Linked DNA regions of Homo sapiens. Each later gene encodes a partner of the first gene's protein in a complex. Each region holds a gene or a part of one and is shown on either strand. Other genes may lie near its edges. The genes, in order: BRPF3 and KAT6A.

What was found.
Region 2: BRPF3 (region 1) and KAT6A share a complex: the UniProt entries of both Homo sapiens proteins name them as parts of the MOZ/MORF complex.

Annotation. Positions count from the first base shown.
Region 1 is NC_000006.12:36,189,734-36,199,743, forward strand, and holds the start of BRPF3 (bromodomain and PHD finger-containing protein 3), read left to right. Parts: upstream 1-7,010; 5' UTR 7,011-7,237; exon of another isoform or gene 7,238-7,470; intron 7,471-7,651; exon of another isoform or gene 7,652-7,686; intron 7,687-10,010. UniProt on the Homo sapiens protein: Scaffold subunit of various histone acetyltransferase (HAT) complexes, such as the MOZ/MORF and HBO1 complexes, which have a histone H3 acetyltransferase activity.
Region 2 is NC_000008.11:41,928,716-41,938,495, reverse strand, and holds the end of KAT6A (histone acetyltransferase KAT6A), read left to right. Parts: intron 1-927; coding exon 928-1,240; intron 1,241-3,628; coding exon 3,629-6,291; 3' UTR 6,292-9,017; downstream 9,018-9,780. UniProt on the Homo sapiens protein: Histone acetyltransferase that acetylates lysine residues in histone H3 and histone H4 (in vitro). Component of the MOZ/MORF complex which has a histone H3 acetyltransferase activity. May act as a transcriptional coactivator for RUNX1 and RUNX2.

The DNA.
Region 1 (10,010 bases):
GGAGGATCGCTTGAGCTTGGGAGGTTGAGGCTGCAGTGAGCTGTGATCACACCACTGCATTCCAGCCTGTGCAACAGAGCAAGACCTCATCTCAAAAAACAAAAACAAACACTAGCAAAATTCTAAAATAAACCTGGCTTCCAGTGTTTTGCAATGTGATTGGGGGAAGAGGCAGGACCACTAAGAATTTTGATCTATGAAACATTTATTTCAACTAAAAGGATGGACTGACTAGAAATGTTTTCATGAAATTTTCTCTTAGCCCCCTTCTGCACCACCAGATTCCAGCAATTTGTACCAGATTTCCCCTCCCTCATCAGTCTAGGGAAGAACATGTGATGGTGATGATTGGGGCTCGGGGGAGCATCTTATTATTTAGTATGCAGAGATTCCCTTTAATTTCCGTTTTCAGTATGACACTTCATCGCTGTCTTCATTGGTTCCTGGTGGCCCCAAGTCTAGAACTTCTTTAGTTCAATTTCTTGAGATAGTAAATCTCACCTGCTGTTGTTTTCCCTCATTCTCTTTGTTCTTGTGGATTTCATTGTCTTGTGGATTTTTTTATCCTTTACTAACATTATTGAAGTTAGGGGAGGGAGTGGGGACCAATGCATGTTGTCAAGCCAGACATTATTTTAACCATGCAATCATTAAACTTTTCCAGAAATGTCCCACTCATTGTGGACTACTCTTTCTACAATGTACAATGTAAATTGTAAATTGAATTTAAATTTGCCATCATTTCATTGTTTTCTATTTGTTTCACCTTTACTATATTTCCTTTTCTTTCCTTGACTTCTTTTAGGTTGGTCGAATTTTTTATTCTTTTTTTACTCTGTACTAGTTTGTGAGTTACATCCTCATTTTTTCATTCTTTTAATGTTAATGATTAGTCTAAAAATTGCAACAGGTATGCTTTATCAACTTAATTGTGGTAAAATTTATGTAAAATAAAAGACAGCTACTCTGTACAGTTTAAGTTTTGGCAAATGTATATATACCTGTTTCTCCACCACTGCCATCAACTTACAGAATGTTTCTATCACTCCAAAAAGTTTCCTCATGCCCTTTATAGTCCCTCCTCCCCTTCACATCCAGGAAGCCACCAATCTGCTATCATTATAGAGCAGTTTGCATTTTCCAGAATTTCATATAAATGGAAACATGTATTTTATTATTATAGGTATTCTGGAGTAATCAAAAGCTAATATTAATCCTTTAACTTTACCTTTTTCTCAGAGTATTTTAATCCTGGAATTCTCTAAAATCCTCTAATTCACTGTTTCTCAACTTTAATATGCATATAAATTACTTATGGAAATCTTGTCAAAATGCAGGTTCTAGTTTAGTATGTGCTATTATTTTTGTGTATTTTCTCTCCCTTTAGTAAAATTATGCCAAGAAGATGGCTACTTTTAGGGTTGGTACTTCTGCTAAAATATGGAATTATATTTTATAGTGTCCTGGCTTCACTCACAGTTAAGAGTTTAGGATTTAATAGAAATCCTAATTAAAGGTTGAAAAGATAAGACATTAGATCAAGTTGAACAATTTATACTTGTCACATACTACTTGCTTTCATGCTTGCTTGGTTTAGCATTCCACTGAGTATATGGTAAAATGTTCTAGCTAGAATTCAAGTTCAGAAGATAATGCAAGCCACACTGGATAGCTAATTTAAACCATACCGTATCACACTCTCTTGCCTGACTAGAACTTAAAGCATGGAACTATTGAAGTCATTTCCCTGTTCCAAAAATCATCAGGGTCTCCTGCCCCTTCATGTCTAGCTCCCTACCCAACCAACAGTCTCCATGCTCTGACTTTACCTTACCAGCCTTCTCTCTCATATCCCTCATTTTTGGGTCAATGGGTAACCCACTGTTTCCTGAAACAATCTTATGGCATTCCATGTGTTAAAGAAAAGACAGCAGACCCCAAATGGAGTCATTCATGCTGAGAGGTTCCATGACACCAAACCAAAACCTGTATTTTACTGTAAGATCTGACTCTTCAAGAAATCAGGAGAGAGATGATAGTCAAATCCCATTAAACCAACAAGATTTCATTTACATTCCTATAAAGAAAAATAATCTTGAAAAGACCAATCTGCTATTTGCTCATTGTTCCTGATTTATTTCACTTCTTTCTGCCTATAAAACTCACCTACTTGTTTAGCTCATAGGAACTCCTTTCTATTTTGTAGACTGGATGTTGCCCAGTTCATAAACAGCTAATAAAGCCAATTGGATCTTTGGGACTCATTTGTTGAAATTTTATTCTTTGATACGTTCTTCCTCTTTGCTCATGCGGGTGGCTCAGCCTGGACCACACTCCCTCTACCATCTTTCTAGCTGACACACCTACCTGAGAGCTTTCAGGTAGAGCTCAGATAGCACTTTCTTCACAGAGCCTTCCCTCTTCTCCTAAACAGACGAGCTCACTCCCTCCTCCAAACTTTGGCACTTCGTTTGCATCTCTCTTGAAGTGCTTATATTGTAGCACGTTCCAGTTATAAATACCCTTGCTTTATACTGTGATTAGAATCTAAATGCCTTCAAGTCTGCAAGCATACTCTTTTCACCTTTGTGGCCTTTACAGCCATAAAATAGAACCTTACCAGCAGCTCACAAATAGTAATTGAATAAATATGTATTTCAGTGTGACCAAAAGAGGTTCCAGAGAACTTGAGCTGATTTCATCATTTCTTCAATCCTCAGGTTCCCACCTCCAATAGGAGCTCCCGAGCAACCCTTTGCCACCTCTTAATTTGCAATGATTGTACCAAACTGTGAGAACCTACAAAGTTTGAACTTAGATTCTTCTTCAATCTTCTCCTTTGTTCTTATGTCCAATCAGACAAAACAGTTGCTTTGTCATCTGATTTCTGATTTGACCTTTCCTTTTCCTCTTTCTCTAACACATTTTCCATCATTCTGCTTAATGCCTTTTTATTTTCATAATGCCTAATTACCTATAGTAAACTCTTCCAGGTTTACCGGATCTCCTGTTCTACTTTCTCCAATACATAAAGAGGATAACAGTAACATTTTATAGAGTTAGTAAGTTGATAAATAAGATATGGTGTGCATATTGGACCTAGTTTGTACATGTACCTACTACCCCATTGTACAATCTTCTCCTGCTCATGTCCTCTGGTTTTAGGAGTTGATACATGACAAGCAGCATGTCCCTCTGGCCACAGTTATTGGCTCAGGATGGCTGAGAAATTGCAAGATACAGTATGCTGATGACATAATTCGAGTCCTTTGACTCGATCTTGTCTATAGCTAGATGCACCCCTGGACTTTCTGGTTATGAGAGTTTATTTCCTTTATTAAACTCACTTAAGTTGGTTTTCTGCTAACTGCAACAAAGATCTTTAATAAATGGAGTATATAAAGCACTAAGCACAGTACCTTGTACATAAGTGTTAGGTATTATTTTTATTATCCCTGTCCCCTTGCCATACCTCCTACCCAATTCAATCTTTTTCTTATCATCTGCCCATACATACCAGCTAGGATAATTTCCGCATTATTCCCTGCATATTTTCCCTTTGCCTGGACTGTCCTGTCACCAACCCAATGTCACTTTACACTCTTTTCACCAGTTCACATCCATCATGATTTAGAACTTGGCTTAAAGAAGTCTCCCATTCTCCAAGAAGCCTTCTTTGAATAATGGTGGCTCCATACTCTTCACTGCCTTATCTATTTTTTCTTGTATGTGTTTTCTACTTATTTCTACCATTCTGGATTGCACACTACTCAAGGCAAGAAAAAATATATTCTATCTATACTTATGATCATTAGTCCCTTTCTAGGTTGAGATTTTGTCATTATTTTCCAAAGAACTTGTGCAGTATTAGACACACTCTAAGTGGTCAATGAATACGTTTTAGAAATACATAAATGGAATTAAATCTAGAGAGTGTGGTATGTTACTCTATTTAAGACCTGTTGTTAACCTAGCTAAACTTTTCCCATTTTCCAAGCAAACTTTACATTCTTAAACCATTTTAATTAGTGTAAAAGTATCGGCCGGGCGCGGTGGCTCACGCCTGTAATCCCAGCACTTTGGGAGGCCGAGGCGGGCGGATCACGAGGTCAGGAGATCGAGACCATCCCGGCTAAAACGGTGAAACCCCGTCTCTACTAAAAATACAAAAAATTAGCTGGGCGTAGTGGCGGGCGCCTGTAGTCCCAGCTACTTGGGAGGCTGAGGCAGGAGAATGGCTTGAACCCGGGAGGCGGAGCTTGCAGTGAGCCGAGATCCCGCCACTGCACTCCAGCCTGGGCGACAGAGCAAGACTCCGTCTCAAAAAAAAAAAAAAAAAAAAAAAAAGTATCACAATGATTCCAACCTCAAACATTCCTCCCAACTGTGGTTTCAGAATTCTTTTAGTCAAGTATCTAAGGAAGGAATATTCTATTAAAAATAATTTAACAATCAATCAAGGCCTATTTTTTTCCTTATCATCCACGTTATTAATCCAGTGGGTACTGCGTCTGACCCCTGAGAGGTTTCTTGGCCTGATAAACTAATGACAATAGTGAAGCATTAACAAAGATATCCTGAGATGCTGAAAAAAAGTATGATGGGGAAGTATGAAAGAAAGAGGTGGGGAAATGGTGATTTTTTTTTGTATTCATGTTTCTTTTAGTTTTAAATGGTAAAACCTTCTCCTATCCCAAATAAGTTGGTTTCTACTTACAGCTGGAAGGTTCTTAAAAACAACTATTTGGAATCAAAGATCCATGCCTCTGTTTGTTGAATTTAATTGCTGTATGGTTTATTGGAAAGGCCAGGGGTGGTGAATTTAAACCGTTTAAAATAGCAAACGATTAAAGTGAATTAAATTTAGTGCCTCTGAGATTTTTGATATATGTTCCAAATTTGTTTTTAATAACATAATTGTTCCATGTTACATTTAAGATTCCATCACAGGGAACTGGTTACGTGTGCAGTTATGCTTGTAGAAACCAATTCCAAATGTCAAAAATTAAAGTGAGGGCAACTGTAATGATATCATTAAAAAAGTAGAAGTTGAAAATGGAAGAGAAACACTTAGGTTGAATAAGGTCTTAATATGAAAGCTTTGAATAGAAAAACCTGAAAAAAATCACATGCATTAGGTTGACTTAAGGCCTTTTCAACAGCATTTAAATCGTTGACTTACAAGTAGAAACCAATGCATTTTCTCAAGGTATTTATTCATTCATTTTAGTGGAAAAAGATAGCTCCTGATCACGCAAATGGGAATTGTGCTAAATAAATTTTGAGAACATCCATCAAGAAATAAAAGTTACTAGTCATATGTATAAATGATTATTATATTTCATGTTTTAATAGTTTCTGTTAGTTTTCAGACTTTTTTTTTCTTAACTACAAGTACTGTAATTGCAATATTTTCTTGCCTCTGGGGCTTTCTCTTCCACAATTAATCATCTTTTTCTTCCACACCTTCCCTCCAAATGATTATTCCCCCTAGCTTCAGAACACTTGACATTAATTCATACTATTTCATCTTCACAGCTTTCAAAACATTGTCCTGCCCTTGCTTAGCTCCACGAGCCACCCCCCTTGCATTTAAAAAATTGGTTAACAGAAGCATTTTTGTACTATCTCTTTGCCAGAAGATGCTATTTACTTGGAAACAAATTAGCTTCCTTAATCAAACTTTTGAATTTGAAACTCTCTATATTTAAATTCCTTAGTATAACATCTATACTTCCAAAGTAGCAGTATGTTCACTTTAAACATTCAGAAAATTTGGATCCTAAGACTTTATCCTTCATCCTTCTGACTCTAGAATACATGTCCTTGATCATCAGAACCAAGAAAGAAATTGAGTCTCACCAGCTACACCACAAGTGCCAGCAGAGGAAACACTTTCAAACTGTCACTCACCTTCACATTTACAGGCAGCTTATCCATACGTCCTTTATAAACATCATTATGTATTGGTGCTTAAGACTTCAGTCACATGAGGTAAGCTTTCCAGTTTACAGGCAAAAGGGGGTGGCAATGGAGCCCTTTTCTTTATTTTTTTGTTTTTTTAGATCAAAACAAAAGCCAGTTTGGTCTGATGCTGCCATTTGTCAAGCATCTTTTAGAAAGCCGCCTAATGCATTAAATTAACCAAGTCAGGTTTAAAGTGTTTCCCATGCCCACAGTGACAGACGAGTTACCAGGCATGCTTAAGCAGACTGTCAAACTTTTGTTTACTCCTTTTAAACGGAAAGTCAGATTTTTTTTTTTTTTTTTTAAAAGATGTGTGGTGCGGAACAAGACGCTCACCTGTACACAACAAAGGCAGGTCTTTCCCGGCTGTCCTCACTGGGGGAGGGGATGGACAATCGCTAGACCTTTGTCCTCAGGTCCTGGGCATGGGGGTTAGGGGAGACGCGACTTTCTGGGAGTCGTGCAGGCACCTGCAGTCAAGAAACTACATATTGGTTTTGACCTCAATGACTGCCCTGGCTTAACCTTTGGAGAGGCCCTTTAGTTCGGGGAGGGGGCTTGCTGCTCCAAACCGTAGCCACGTCACCCACAAGGACTGGGGAGGAAATGACTGACCGCTCAAGAGTCAGGGACCCCTGTCTCTCCCAACTAGACCCGAACGTCCACAGCCCTCTTATCGGGCTCGCCCCGTGGCGGGCAGGGCCGTGGTGCGCAGGGATCGCGGCGGGCGCAGACCCGGTCTCTTGCTCGGTGTCCCCGCCGCGCCCGCACCGCCACCGTGAGGCCGAGCCGGGGATGGTGCCCCGTGGCGGCGGCGGCGGCGCCTCCGCGCTCCTCTCCGCACCGCCCCGGCCGCCGCCGCGCCAGGCACGGGCGGGGGGATTTTTTTCCCGTTTCCCCCTCTTTCGCGCTCTCGCTCCTGTTCAGCGGGAGAGCCCGCAGAGTCAGGGAGGGAGCGAGGGAAGGGGTGGAGGTGGCGGGGGGAGGCCGGAGGGGCGGATCCTGCCTGGGGGCTGATCCCTCCCTCCCCTCGGCCGGGCTCCGTGGCGGCAGCGGCAGCAGCGGCGGCTCCATTCCCCCTCCTCCCCCGGGAGCGGCGGCGGCGGCCGGGCCGGGGCCCCAGCGCGGGCCGGGAGGGGGCACGGCGGAGGCCACGGAGGCAGGCGCGGGAGAAGACCGCGCTCCGCTTCCCGGGCCGCGCCGACCTGCTCGGCGGCCTGCCCGCCCGCGCCCAGGGGCCCCGAACGGTGGGGCCGGGCAGGCGGCTGAGGTAATGGGGGCGGCAGCGGGGCCGGACAGAGCGGGGGCGGGGGCATCGGGGCCTTCGGGGACCAGGGACTGCACGGGGGGAAACCGGAGAAGCGGGGGGCTTTCCGAGCAGGGCGGGGGCGGTGCGAAAGCTCTCTCCTGGAGCGAGGGCGGCGGCAGGGAAGGAGAAGGCGGGTGAGCGGGGGAGCTGAGAAGCGAGGACCCCCTCCCGCAGCCGCCATCTTGTCTCCCCCCCCAGCCCTGGATTCCGAGCCGCTAAGCCCCGCCCCCGCCACGCCTTCCAATTGGCCTGGCCAGACGAGAGTCCCGCCCCTTGAGCGGCCCTAGGTCCCCTGGGTCCCTCTGACGGGCAGGTGACGCAGCCAATGGGTTCTCGCCTCTCCGCCCCGCTCATTCGCTGGCGCTCGCTTTCTCTGTCTGAGGGTCGGACTCCACGTCAGGCTGTCTCTGGTGCGCTCGCCCCTCCCCTCTGAGGAGATGTTATTTCCCTCCTTTCTTCTCCGAGGGGTCAAGATTCTTCTGGAAGAGGTGCCCCCTTAAAGGAGCAGGAGCCTTGGCTGGGGTCCTCCTTGTCTCCTGAGTATCTTGTGTGAGGTGCAGGGGATACAGTCTAATTGCAGAAGCTCCTCATTCTTCGGGGACCTGGATGGGGTGGGTGAGCGAGGGGTCAGGGGGTGCCGAGGGGAAATCTGGGGGGGCGGGGGTTGTTGGAGATATTTTGGAGGTGTGTATGTGGGAAGGGCTGTGTAGGTTGAGAAACTCCCGCCAAAAAACTCGTCTAGACTGTAAGCTCCTTGTGGGCGAAACTCTTTTCATTTCCCTCATCAGCAGTCCCTTCCCCCTCTAGAGTTTCTCCCCGGTGTCTGGAGGCGTGGGTGGGACAAAACACGTCTGTGTAGAGTCTTGCATGGTCGAGAGATGCTTGAGCAGCCGAGGAGGTGGCAGGTGGGGAAGGAGAAGATGGAGCGGCTTTCATGAAAGTGGGCGCCGCACCGCCTGTCTGCGCTGTTTGGGGTCGGTGTGGAGGCAGATGTTCTCACCTCTTCTAGGGCCTCGGTGCCTTTGGAGGGGTGGGTGATGAAGCAGGTCTGTTGGCCCTGTCTGCCCCCAGGGACTTGGCATTTGTAAGGAATCCAGTAGCCAAGGGCCTCTGGAACCCGGACAGAATTGCTGCGATGATTCTGTTTCCTTTGGCTCCAAATGGGGTGTGTGCCAGCCCGCCTGGCACTGCTCCTCAGCCAAATTGGTTTTTTGTTTGTTTCAGTCACACTTTGGGATTGGAAGGCCTTTCAAGTAAAGATGTTAATAATACCTTATTAACAAGTAGCACCTAGAGAGCTAGATTGTGTTACCCTCATTTTACTGATGGAGTATGGAGGCATAGAGAGCTTAAGGGACTTTCTCTAGGTCACAGAGGGCCAAGATTAGAACCTAGATTGCCCCAGAGCCTCGTTTTGTACCAGACCATAGCACCTCTGTGGTGTTCTTAATTCCCACTGAGAGGAATTGAGCATCGGAAGACCTGGGTTCAAATTGTAGCGTTATCACTTACTAGCTTTACGTTGAGTGACATCTTTCTGAGCTTCTGTGTAGATGATAATAGCTACACCATCTCCTAAGGTAGTTGTGAGAAATATTAAAAGTAAGAGGGCTTTGTAGTTTGGAAAAAGTGCTTTTATTATCACCGTCTCTACTTTATATAGATGGTAGACCCTGCAACCAAGGCGATGAATTGTTTTTCTCTTTGAAATCTTCTCTTTGTTCATATCCTTCCAAGTCTGCCCACACCATGGGGCCCTGTATCCCCAAAGGTCTCTCCTGGTGGTGACAGCCTTGGTAACTGCCTACCGCAGCTCCTTATGAGCTTGTCATCCAGAGAATGATGGGGGAAACTAGGACTTTCTCTTGGCTGTACAAGGATAGACTAGATATGAGTGTTCTGGGAGAGACTTTTGAGGTAACAGAATGCATTGAGAGTTTACCTCAGATACTGCCCAGATCATCTTGGCCTTCGGTCGAATGAAGGTCCTAGACAGGCCACTATAACTTCAGAGATCTCTTGGAGCCACTCTCAGAGCTTCTAGGGTTTGTTTCTGCCTGGAAATGTACTAGTTGGTGTATCCTGGATCAGGGGTTCCCAACCCCCAGGCCGCAGACTGTGGCCTGTTAAGAACCAGGCCATACAGCAAGAGGTGAGTGGCGGGCAAGCGAGCATTACCACCTGAGCTCTGCCTCCTGTCAGATCAGCGGCTGCTTTGGATTCTCATAGGAGCGCGAACCCTACTGTGAACTGCGCATGTGAGGGATCTAGGTTGCATGCTCCTTATGAGAATCTGACTAATGCCTGATGATCTGAGGTGGAACAGTGTTCACCACCCACCCTCATCTGTGGAAAAATTGTCTTCCACGAAACCAGTCCCTGGTGCCAAAAAGGCTGGGGACTGCTGTCCTGGATGGTGTCTTTTGTAGGGAATACCCTGCATACTGTAGTTTGAAGCCCTTAGACCATGTATCATAGATATTTCAGATGCCTTCACCCCTTCACCTCTAGGCAGGGTCAAGGAGTAGGGTTTCTGATCGTGGTAAGAGGTATTGGGAGAAGACTCTAGTGACTTTTGATCCTCTGATGGGGCCCATTGTTCACGTACAGAGCTTGACAGTGGATGCTTTTCTTGTTTTCTTTTCTAAACCGTTAACTACATGTGTTTTCCATAGTTAGCTGTCGCCCAGCTTTATGTACATCATTAGAACATTAGATCTTTCCCCATGTTACA
Region 2 (9,780 bases), on another chromosome or scaffold:
TGAAAATTACATTCTCGATTGGGACTATTAAGTTTGAAGTAGAGAAAAATTGAACATTGACTAACTGCTGTTCATTGCATGATCATGAAGAATAGATCTTTGTCATCCTAGCACTTGTATTGCCAATTTATGAAGTAAAACAAATCATGTTAAAAAAAGAAAAAGAACAGGCAGTAAGCTCACATGCAAAGTAATTTTGAAGTTAATGAATAAATGCTTTGACTGGATGTGTGAACTTAAGCAAGTCCTATACCCTCTCTGACATCTATAGAATGAAGGGATTGGATTAGATAATCTCTGGGGCATCATCTCTTATTTTGTGATATTAGTTGTATAATTTTAGCTATTTGGTCAGTCCAGTGCAAAGTTGTGCTCAGTGTGCCCAAATTTCAGTAACAGATTTATTTTACTTTTGAAATATTTCACTAACACTGAGTAAATACATTTCAGCCCCATATTTCTACATTCCACAGCTTTTTATGAGTAGTTCATGAAAATGGCATACAACTTTACTGATAGTTCTGCAAACCTTCACAGTAGTGCTATAAGACAAAGTGTTTTTATTTCTCTTTTGCTCTTAAGTTGGAAAAGTTAAGGGATTAGCCTCTGGGTCAGTTCAGTATTAAAACAGGGCAACTCTCTAGGGTGCTAAATTTAACTGAACTATTAAGAGAATTATAATGTCTGCTATTTGGAGATGGCTGCCTATTCTTTTACAAAGTTGTGTTCAATTGCCTAATACCTTTGTATTTATAATAAGTGTATTATCTTACTATAGTATTTTGAAATAATATTCAAAATATTTTTTGGCAAACAACATCCTCATTTTATATGTGCTAATTCTATTTGGTTTTAAAACTGTTTTCGTATTATTAATAGAAAAGATAGTGTTCATAACTGTAAATACTTGCTTTCTCTATTAAACAGAAACCATTTCTCCACCGAAGGAGGAGAGTCCGAAAGCGCAAACACCACAATAGCAGTGTAGTCACAGAAACTATTTCTGAGACCACTGAAGTGTTAGATGAACCTTTTGAAGATTCTGACTCCGAGAGGCCAATGCCAAGATTAGAACCCACGTTTGAGATCGATGAAGAAGAGGAGGAAGAGGATGAAAATGAACTTTTCCCTAGAGAATACTTCCGTCGTTTGTCTTCGCAGGATGTACTCAGGTGTCAGTCCTCTTCTAAGAGGAAGTCTAAAGATGAAGAAGAAGATGAAGAGTCAGATGATGCTGATGGTATGTTTTACAGAACTCACTTACTGTGGTTTATTGTCTTCAGATATATAGCAGTAGCAGTGACAGACCCTTCAGTAAAAAGGCTGAAAAATGAACACAACCCACTAAGCAAGAAAAGGAACGTTTGGCAATCTCTAAAAAGTTGTATCAAGTATATCCATCTTGATTTTTAAATGTGTTTTCCCTTCAACTCAGAACCTCTATTAATTTGCCTCTGCAGAAAATATCTTACTATTAGGCAACTGTTCTTTTTTGCCCAATCCTTTCTAAGCCTTTATCAGAATCTTTAGTTAATGGGAGAGTTGGACTTAGCATCAGGAAGATGTAATAACCCTTCACTAGAATGTGCATTCTCTAGACTTAGTCTGTTTTGCTCATTGCTGTATGCTGAGTGCTTAAGCCCGGCGCTCAGTAAGTAGTGTTAAATGAGTGAATGCTAAGAAGACAATTCTCCAGAAAGAGCAGATTCATGTAAATTGGAACTTGTGTCACATCTGTTCAGGAGTCTTTCCTGAATTGTATCTCTAATGTGTCTTACCCAACTAGTAGTAAATTTCTCACAAATGGTAACAATAACTCAAAATAAATTTTATAGTATAGATACAAATCCAACTATTTACTTTTAAAGCAGCCTAGTTGTCATTTCTTCTCTAGAGACACTGAAACTAGGTCTCATATATATGAGCCAGGTCAGAAACAAGTCTTTTTCACCCTAGCCTAAAGTTTTGCCAGTGTCTCATGCTGCCTGCATCTGCAGTGTGTTTATCTCGCATGGGCTCAGAATGAGCATTTTTACTTTGTTGGGCAAATTTGAAGAAATCTACTTGTCCAGTCTTGGTACATAAACCTTTAGCTTTTATGCATTAACTGGTTGAACTTTTTAATTCTTTTAAAAATTCAGTCAGTTTCAAGTCTAGAAGATAAACTTACATTTTCTCCATTCTCATATTTTCTATATAACAAATACTTTTTTATTTTTTATTTTTTATTTTTTTGAGATGGAGTCTCCCTCTGTCACCCAGGTGGGAGTGCAGTGGCACAGTCTCAGCTCACTGCAACCTCCACCTCCGGGTTCAAGCGATTCTCGTGCCTCAGCATCCCAAGTAGTTGGGATTATAGGTGCACGCCACCATGCCTGGCTAATTTTTGTATTTTTAGTAGAGACGGGGTTTCACCATGTTGGCCAGGCTGGTCTCAAACTCCTGACCTCAAGTGATCCACCCGCCTTGGACTCCCAAAGTGCTGGGATTACAGGTGTGAGCCACCCTGCCTGGCCAACAAATACTTTTAATATAGTGATAAGATGAATGTGTTCTTTGCTCTATCATGAATGATTCTACAGAGTTTAACTTGCTATGTTTTGAAATAACATAACTAGGAAACTAAAAATTTATTTTGTAAATTTAGCACTTTATATTCTGTCTTAGATCATTGTACACTAAAATAGTACCCCTGATTAAGTTCCCATGGACTTAGATTTTTGCTGATGCAGCCATTTCCTTTGTTGACTTTCAAGTTACTACTACTAACTGTGCCTTTTTAGCCGTGCCCCCACTGCATCATGTTCTTGTCTTGGTATTCTTATTCTTTAAAAATTAATAGGCAATGTGAGTGTACTTAATGCCACTGAACTTAACACTTATAAATGGTTAAAATTTTAAGTTTTATGTTACGTATAGTTTACCATAGTTTTTTTAAAATGCTAATAATATAAAATTTATTTCTAATGAATGTAATTGGTGCTTTAATTTTTTCTTGTTTGTCTAAGTCTAAATGTCAGTTTTTGTCTAGGACTAAATAAATGCTTTGCAGCTATTCCCATACAAACACAACATTAATTGAACAACTGTTCACATACGATGGCTCAGTCATGGCCTAGAGTAATTGGCTCATCATACTACCTGAAGTGATGATTTGTGGAAAGTAAGAAAATCCGAGAGATAAAGTAAATCACAAGCAGAAAAAAAAAGAGGAAATAAGCTAATTTGTAACTTTTAGTAGAGACAACTTGATAAAAGTACTGCTTACTACTTATTTGCCTCTTTATAAAGTTCATCTCCATTTTACAGATGATGAAACTGAAATGTAGAGTAACTTCCCACAGACATGCAGCTGATGATGGTAGTCTTGAATTGGTTCTGACTAGTGTCTGATAACATAATGTTGACCAGGATTCTTTCATAGTTCTGCCAATTCACTGTGTGACTTAGAATATGTCACTAATTAGTTTTATCCTCTAGGTTCTTAACTTTAAAATGAAGACAATCAGGAGTTTATAAAAGTAATGATTAATAAAGTCATTTCTATTGTATATGCTAGTCTTGGAAGAAGGAACTAGAAAATGTAAGACCTTGTAACCTGTCTTTGTTTTTTTTCCTTCCTGTATAGACACTCCTATCTTAAAGCCAGTATCTCTTTTGCGAAAACGTGATGTGAAGAATTCTCCTCTTGAGCCAGATACATCCACACCTTTGAAAAAGAAAAAGGGATGGCCCAAAGGCAAGAGCCGCAAACCAATCCACTGGAAGAAAAGACCTGGTCGAAAACCAGGATTTAAGTTGAGTCGGGAAATCATGCCAGTTTCTACTCAAGCATGCGTCATTGAGCCCATCGTTTCCATTCCTAAAGCTGGACGTAAACCCAAGATCCAGGAGAGTGAAGAAACTGTTGAGCCAAAAGAAGACATGCCCCTACCCGAGGAGAGGAAGGAGGAGGAGGAGATGCAAGCAGAGGCAGAAGAGGCTGAAGAGGGTGAGGAAGAGGATGCAGCCAGCAGTGAAGTCCCAGCAGCCTCTCCAGCAGACAGCAGCAATAGTCCTGAGACCGAAACCAAGGAGCCTGAGGTGGAGGAGGAAGAAGAGAAGCCCCGTGTCTCAGAGGAGCAGAGGCAGTCAGAGGAGGAGCAGCAGGAATTAGAGGAGCCAGAGCCAGAGGAGGAGGAAGATGCAGCTGCAGAGACTGCCCAGAATGACGACCACGACGCTGATGATGAGGATGATGGCCACCTGGAGTCCACAAAGAAAAAGGAGCTAGAGGAACAGCCCACGAGGGAAGATGTCAAGGAGGAGCCTGGTGTTCAAGAGTCTTTTTTAGATGCTAATATGCAGAAGAGTAGGGAAAAGATAAAGGATAAAGAGGAAACCGAGCTGGATTCCGAAGAGGAGCAGCCTTCCCATGACACGTCCGTGGTGTCAGAGCAGATGGCTGGGTCTGAGGACGACCACGAAGAAGACTCCCACACTAAGGAAGAGTTAATCGAATTAAAAGAGGAGGAAGAGATTCCTCATAGTGAGCTGGATCTGGAAACTGTACAGGCAGTGCAGTCTTTGACTCAAGAAGAAAGCAGTGAGCATGAGGGCGCCTACCAGGACTGTGAGGAAACTCTTGCGGCGTGTCAGACCCTGCAGAGTTACACCCAGGCTGACGAGGACCCTCAGATGTCCATGGTTGAAGACTGTCATGCGTCAGAACATAATAGCCCTATCTCCTCCGTTCAGTCTCACCCCAGCCAGTCAGTCCGTTCGGTCAGCAGTCCCAACGTGCCTGCCCTTGAGAGTGGCTACACCCAGATCAGCCCAGAACAAGGATCCCTGTCCGCACCCTCTATGCAGAACATGGAGACCAGCCCCATGATGGATGTGCCTTCCGTATCAGACCACTCTCAGCAGGTGGTGGACAGCGGCTTCAGTGACCTGGGCAGCATTGAGAGCACCACTGAAAACTATGAGAACCCAAGCAGTTACGACTCCACGATGGGCGGCAGCATCTGTGGGAACAGCTCTTCCCAGAGCAGCTGCTCCTACGGTGGGCTGTCGTCCTCCAGCAGCCTCACCCAGAGCAGCTGTGTGGTCACTCAGCAGATGGCCAGCATGGGCAGCAGCTGCAGCATGATGCAGCAGAGCAGCGTCCAGCCTGCTGCCAACTGCAGCATCAAGTCACCTCAGAGCTGCGTGGTGGAGAGGCCTCCCAGTAACCAGCAGCAGCAGCCGCCACCACCGCCTCCACAGCAGCCACAGCCGCCGCCGCCACAACCACAACCAGCACCACAGCCTCCACCACCCCAGCAGCAGCCGCAACAGCAGCCGCAGCCTCAGCCCCAGCAGCCTCCACCCCCACCCCCTCCCCAGCAGCAGCCCCCGCTGTCACAGTGTAGTATGAATAACAGTTTCACCCCAGCTCCTATGATCATGGAGATACCAGAATCTGGAAGCACTGGGAACATAAGTATCTATGAGAGGATTCCAGGGGATTTTGGTGCCGGCAGCTACTCTCAACCATCAGCCACCTTCAGCCTAGCCAAGCTGCAGCAGCTGACCAACACCATTATGGACCCTCATGCCATGCCTTATAGCCATTCTCCTGCTGTGACTTCCTATGCAACCAGTGTTTCTCTGTCCAATACAGGACTGGCTCAGCTGGCTCCATCTCATCCCTTAGCTGGGACTCCTCAAGCACAAGCCACCATGACGCCACCCCCAAACTTGGCATCCACTACCATGAACCTCACATCTCCTCTGCTTCAGTGCAACATGTCTGCCACCAACATTGGCATTCCTCACACGCAGAGATTGCAAGGGCAAATGCCAGTGAAGGGGCACATTTCCATCCGCTCCAAGTCTGCGCCACTGCCCTCTGCGGCTGCTCACCAGCAGCAGCTGTATGGCCGTAGCCCATCGGCAGTTGCCATGCAGGCTGGCCCTCGCGCACTGGCTGTTCAGCGTGGCATGAACATGGGGGTTAATCTGATGCCTACTCCCGCCTATAATGTCAATTCCATGAATATGAACACCTTGAATGCCATGAACAGCTATCGAATGACACAGCCCATGATGAACAGCAGTTACCATAGTAACCCTGCCTACATGAACCAGACAGCACAGTATCCTATGCAGATGCAGATGGGAATGATGGGGAGCCAGGCCTATACCCAGCAGCCTATGCAGCCTAACCCTCATGGGAACATGATGTACACAGGCCCCTCCCATCACAGCTACATGAACGCTGCTGGCGTGCCCAAGCAGTCACTCAACGGACCTTACATGAGAAGATGAGCAAGATGAACTTGCAATCAAAAACTTAAATATATATAAATAAAGGAACCTTTTATACTGACAAACCAGAGAAAAATGGACCTTTTTCCAGTTAAAATATTGCTGTAGATTTAGAGGAATTTTTCTTTGGTTTATTTTATTTTTTAGAAAACCTGATCTTCTCTTTTTTTGGGTTCATTTTGTTCTGGGTTTTGGTTTTCTTCACAATCTTGAACATTTTACAGTAGAACTCATCTAAAAATGGATTTGGGGATGGGGAAACATGCACAAAATCTTTTCATAATTAAAAAGAGCCTTACTTTCTTTACATACCACATGGACAGAATTTGTGTAAAAGTGAATTATCTTTATTTTAAAATGTATGTTTCCCCTCACTGTTTGCAGCTCCCAATGTTGTCATTTTTAAATGTTATATACATCTCAAGGGTTAACCAGACCCTTTCCTCCAAACCCAACCTTTCATTTCCTACTTCATTCCAGCAGGAGGCACTTAGGGGAGACTCGGATGGGGACATGGAGAACAACCCAAGCTCCTTAAACTTATTATTATTGTTAATATTATTATTATTATTATTAATAAAGTGAGGCAGGAAAATGCTTCTCCTTTTAAAATCCCCTCCACTCCTCACACACACACACCTCTTGAAACCCTTCCCCAAGAATGTTTCTTTATAGACGGACTTCATTGAAATCTTTGTTGTTCTTGAATCAAGTGTAATATAATTTTTTTCTTCTTTTTTAAAATATTCCCACTCAGCACTCAGAGACACAAAAATACTGTAAGTCTCAATTAACAGCAGAATCTCAGAGAAAAGCTGTTTGCAATCCAAATCCAGCCTTTGGAGGAATAGAGATGGTCAATTAACAATCAAAAAGAGGAGATTAACCTCTTGTTTTTTTACCACCTGGTGAATCAGCCATAACGCACACACACGCCACCCAGCCTCTTGTTTCTAGTATGTACTTTGAAATGCTAACTGAGGGTCTTGATGCTTGAGCCTTTGACTGATAAAACTCAAATAGCAGTCCCCAGTGATTTGCCTCTTAGGTTCTTTCTTAAATTGTTGGTGGATGACTGTACATTTTAGTGATTTGAAAAATAACTGACAAACCATTGAAACAGTTTATTTTATGTTGGAAGAGATGGCGCAGATGTGTGTCAGAAGGGAGATCACGGTGTGAGTTTCGTAGCTATTTAAGTGATACATACCTCTAGTTTTTGTATGTCTTTTGAGATCCTGAGTTCATCCCCTGTGAATCAGAGTGCACAAGCACCTCTCCTGTGAGTGGCTAATGAGAAGAGGGACAGACCGACCACCAGCACAGTAGGGCAGATCTGGACAGCAGAATGTTATAACGCAAGTTCATGTGTTGCTCCCAACTCCATTCTCTTTTCTCTCGTGCAACCAGTTTGCCCATTCTCTTCCTATTACTTGCTCCAGGGATAGGTAAAAAAAAAAAAAAAAAAAAAAAAAATATATATATATATATATACACACACACACACACACACACACACACATATATATATATATATATTCCATCATTAGAAGATGGAAACTATTATACCACTTGGTATGTGCAGTCAAATATCCAAAAGGGGGAAGTACTGCTTAGAGAAATATCTGTAAGCATTAAATTCTCTCCTTTATTTGTACATTTTATATAGATAAATTTTTAAAGTACTAATTAGGCATTAACTTTTTTCAAATGCACAGGTTTGTTGGTTTTTTTAATACACTTTAATTGACTTTCTCAAGCGTGCTAGGTAGAAACGCAGAATTCCACATCTTCCCGCTCTCAGCTCTGAGCATGTGCAAGGCTGTGTAGGACCCAGTTTCTCTGTATATACTATTCCAGTTCCCAGTCATCTATGTAGAAAGTGCACTGTGCTGCCATCGCCCTACATCTTCAGCTGTGTCATTGCTTCCTGGTTGGGGTGGGGACGGGGTGGGTCGGGAGGGAGGTATATTGGGAGGAGGGTGGGTCAAGGCAGAAGGAGAAGCTGTTGAAATGAGGGCCGTGAAATCAGTTTCTGTTGGTTTGCGGTTGTGTTTGGTTTTGTTTGTTTCTTTATAAAAAATTCAATCGGGCAGCTCCCTTTTCCACAAGCCTCTTTGTGACTGTAGAACTATTGTAGAAAAAAAAAGTTCTTTTCTATATTATAAAAGAAATTATCCAACACAGTAATATTGGTACCTGTCATTTTTTCACTTCTGTTTAAAAAAAATGTATTTTTAGCAAGATAACTTGGGTAATCTTCTAAAAAAGAAATTTAAAAACTCACTGTTAGTGACTTTGATGCCTTTTAAAATAAGAGCTTTTTCATTTCATTCCATCTTTAAAATTTTTTATCTTTGTTGTAGAATATTAAAAACTATTTTAAGAAAGATAAATTCTCTTTAAAGAGATCTCTAGCGTGTGTGAATAGAGCTCCAGATGCCTCTAAAAGCCGCATGTACAAAGGAAGCCACGTCTATCCTGTCTGTTTATATTTGCTTTTCCTGTTTTGTAACCTCTTTGTACTTTGTTCATGGTGACTTGTAAGCTAAGGGGAAGGGGTGCCTAGATGCCTTTGTATCTCTCCATGTCACGCGCTCCTGGGCCAGCCGGCCTCCCTTCCTCTCCTTGTATGTAATACCTTTTTTTCCCCTTTCTAGCAAGTACTTTCAAAAGAACTCTGTACATTTTAACATAAAAAATAAATTATGTTGAGCCATTTTGGATGTCTGTCTTGCATGTGGAATTTTTCTCCCTTCCCAGTATGTCAGAACTCTTCAATTCTTGTTCTACACCCAGAGACCTATAAACATTAGTCTTTTCATTTTCCTCTTTATTATAGGAGTACAAGTCCATGGCCTTTGCTTTGAAATTCCAGTTTTCATTTATGTCTGTGTTTAAATGCCAACAATATGGATGGGTTTTCCATTTCCAAGGAACATGGCACGGTAACCCTACTTTGGATTTTGTAGGGGCATTCATATAAAAACCTCCTAAAGGGATTTTAATTCCCGTCCCCCCCACTCCCCTAAAAAAAAGCAATTGCAATAACAAGTAGCTCCTAGACTTGTGATAAATGGGAGGAGTAATTTTTATAGATCTTATTTTATAATGTAACAGTATTTTTAAAAGCGTTGTGGGTTTTTTTTCATTTCATTTTACCTAATTGGGTAATCTAGGAAGATTCGTCATTCTCCTTTTGCCAGAATTCAAGGCCCTGAATGCTGATTACTTTTTGGTGGTCTCTTGGGTTGTGTTTGCCTCTCATCATTTAGAATTGTGGACAGGAGGCAGAGTCCAGAAAATTTGATTTCACTTTGGGAAATTGGCCTTAGTTTCTGGTGGTAGGCAGTGAGGCAGGTTCAAGTTTTAGCGGCCTCCACACTTCCTCTGCCCCTTCACACTGAGGAATTGAGGAACTGTACATGATACTACCTATAGCAGACATTTGTTCTGAATTTCATGCTGTTTAAAGTTTAGACAGTATAG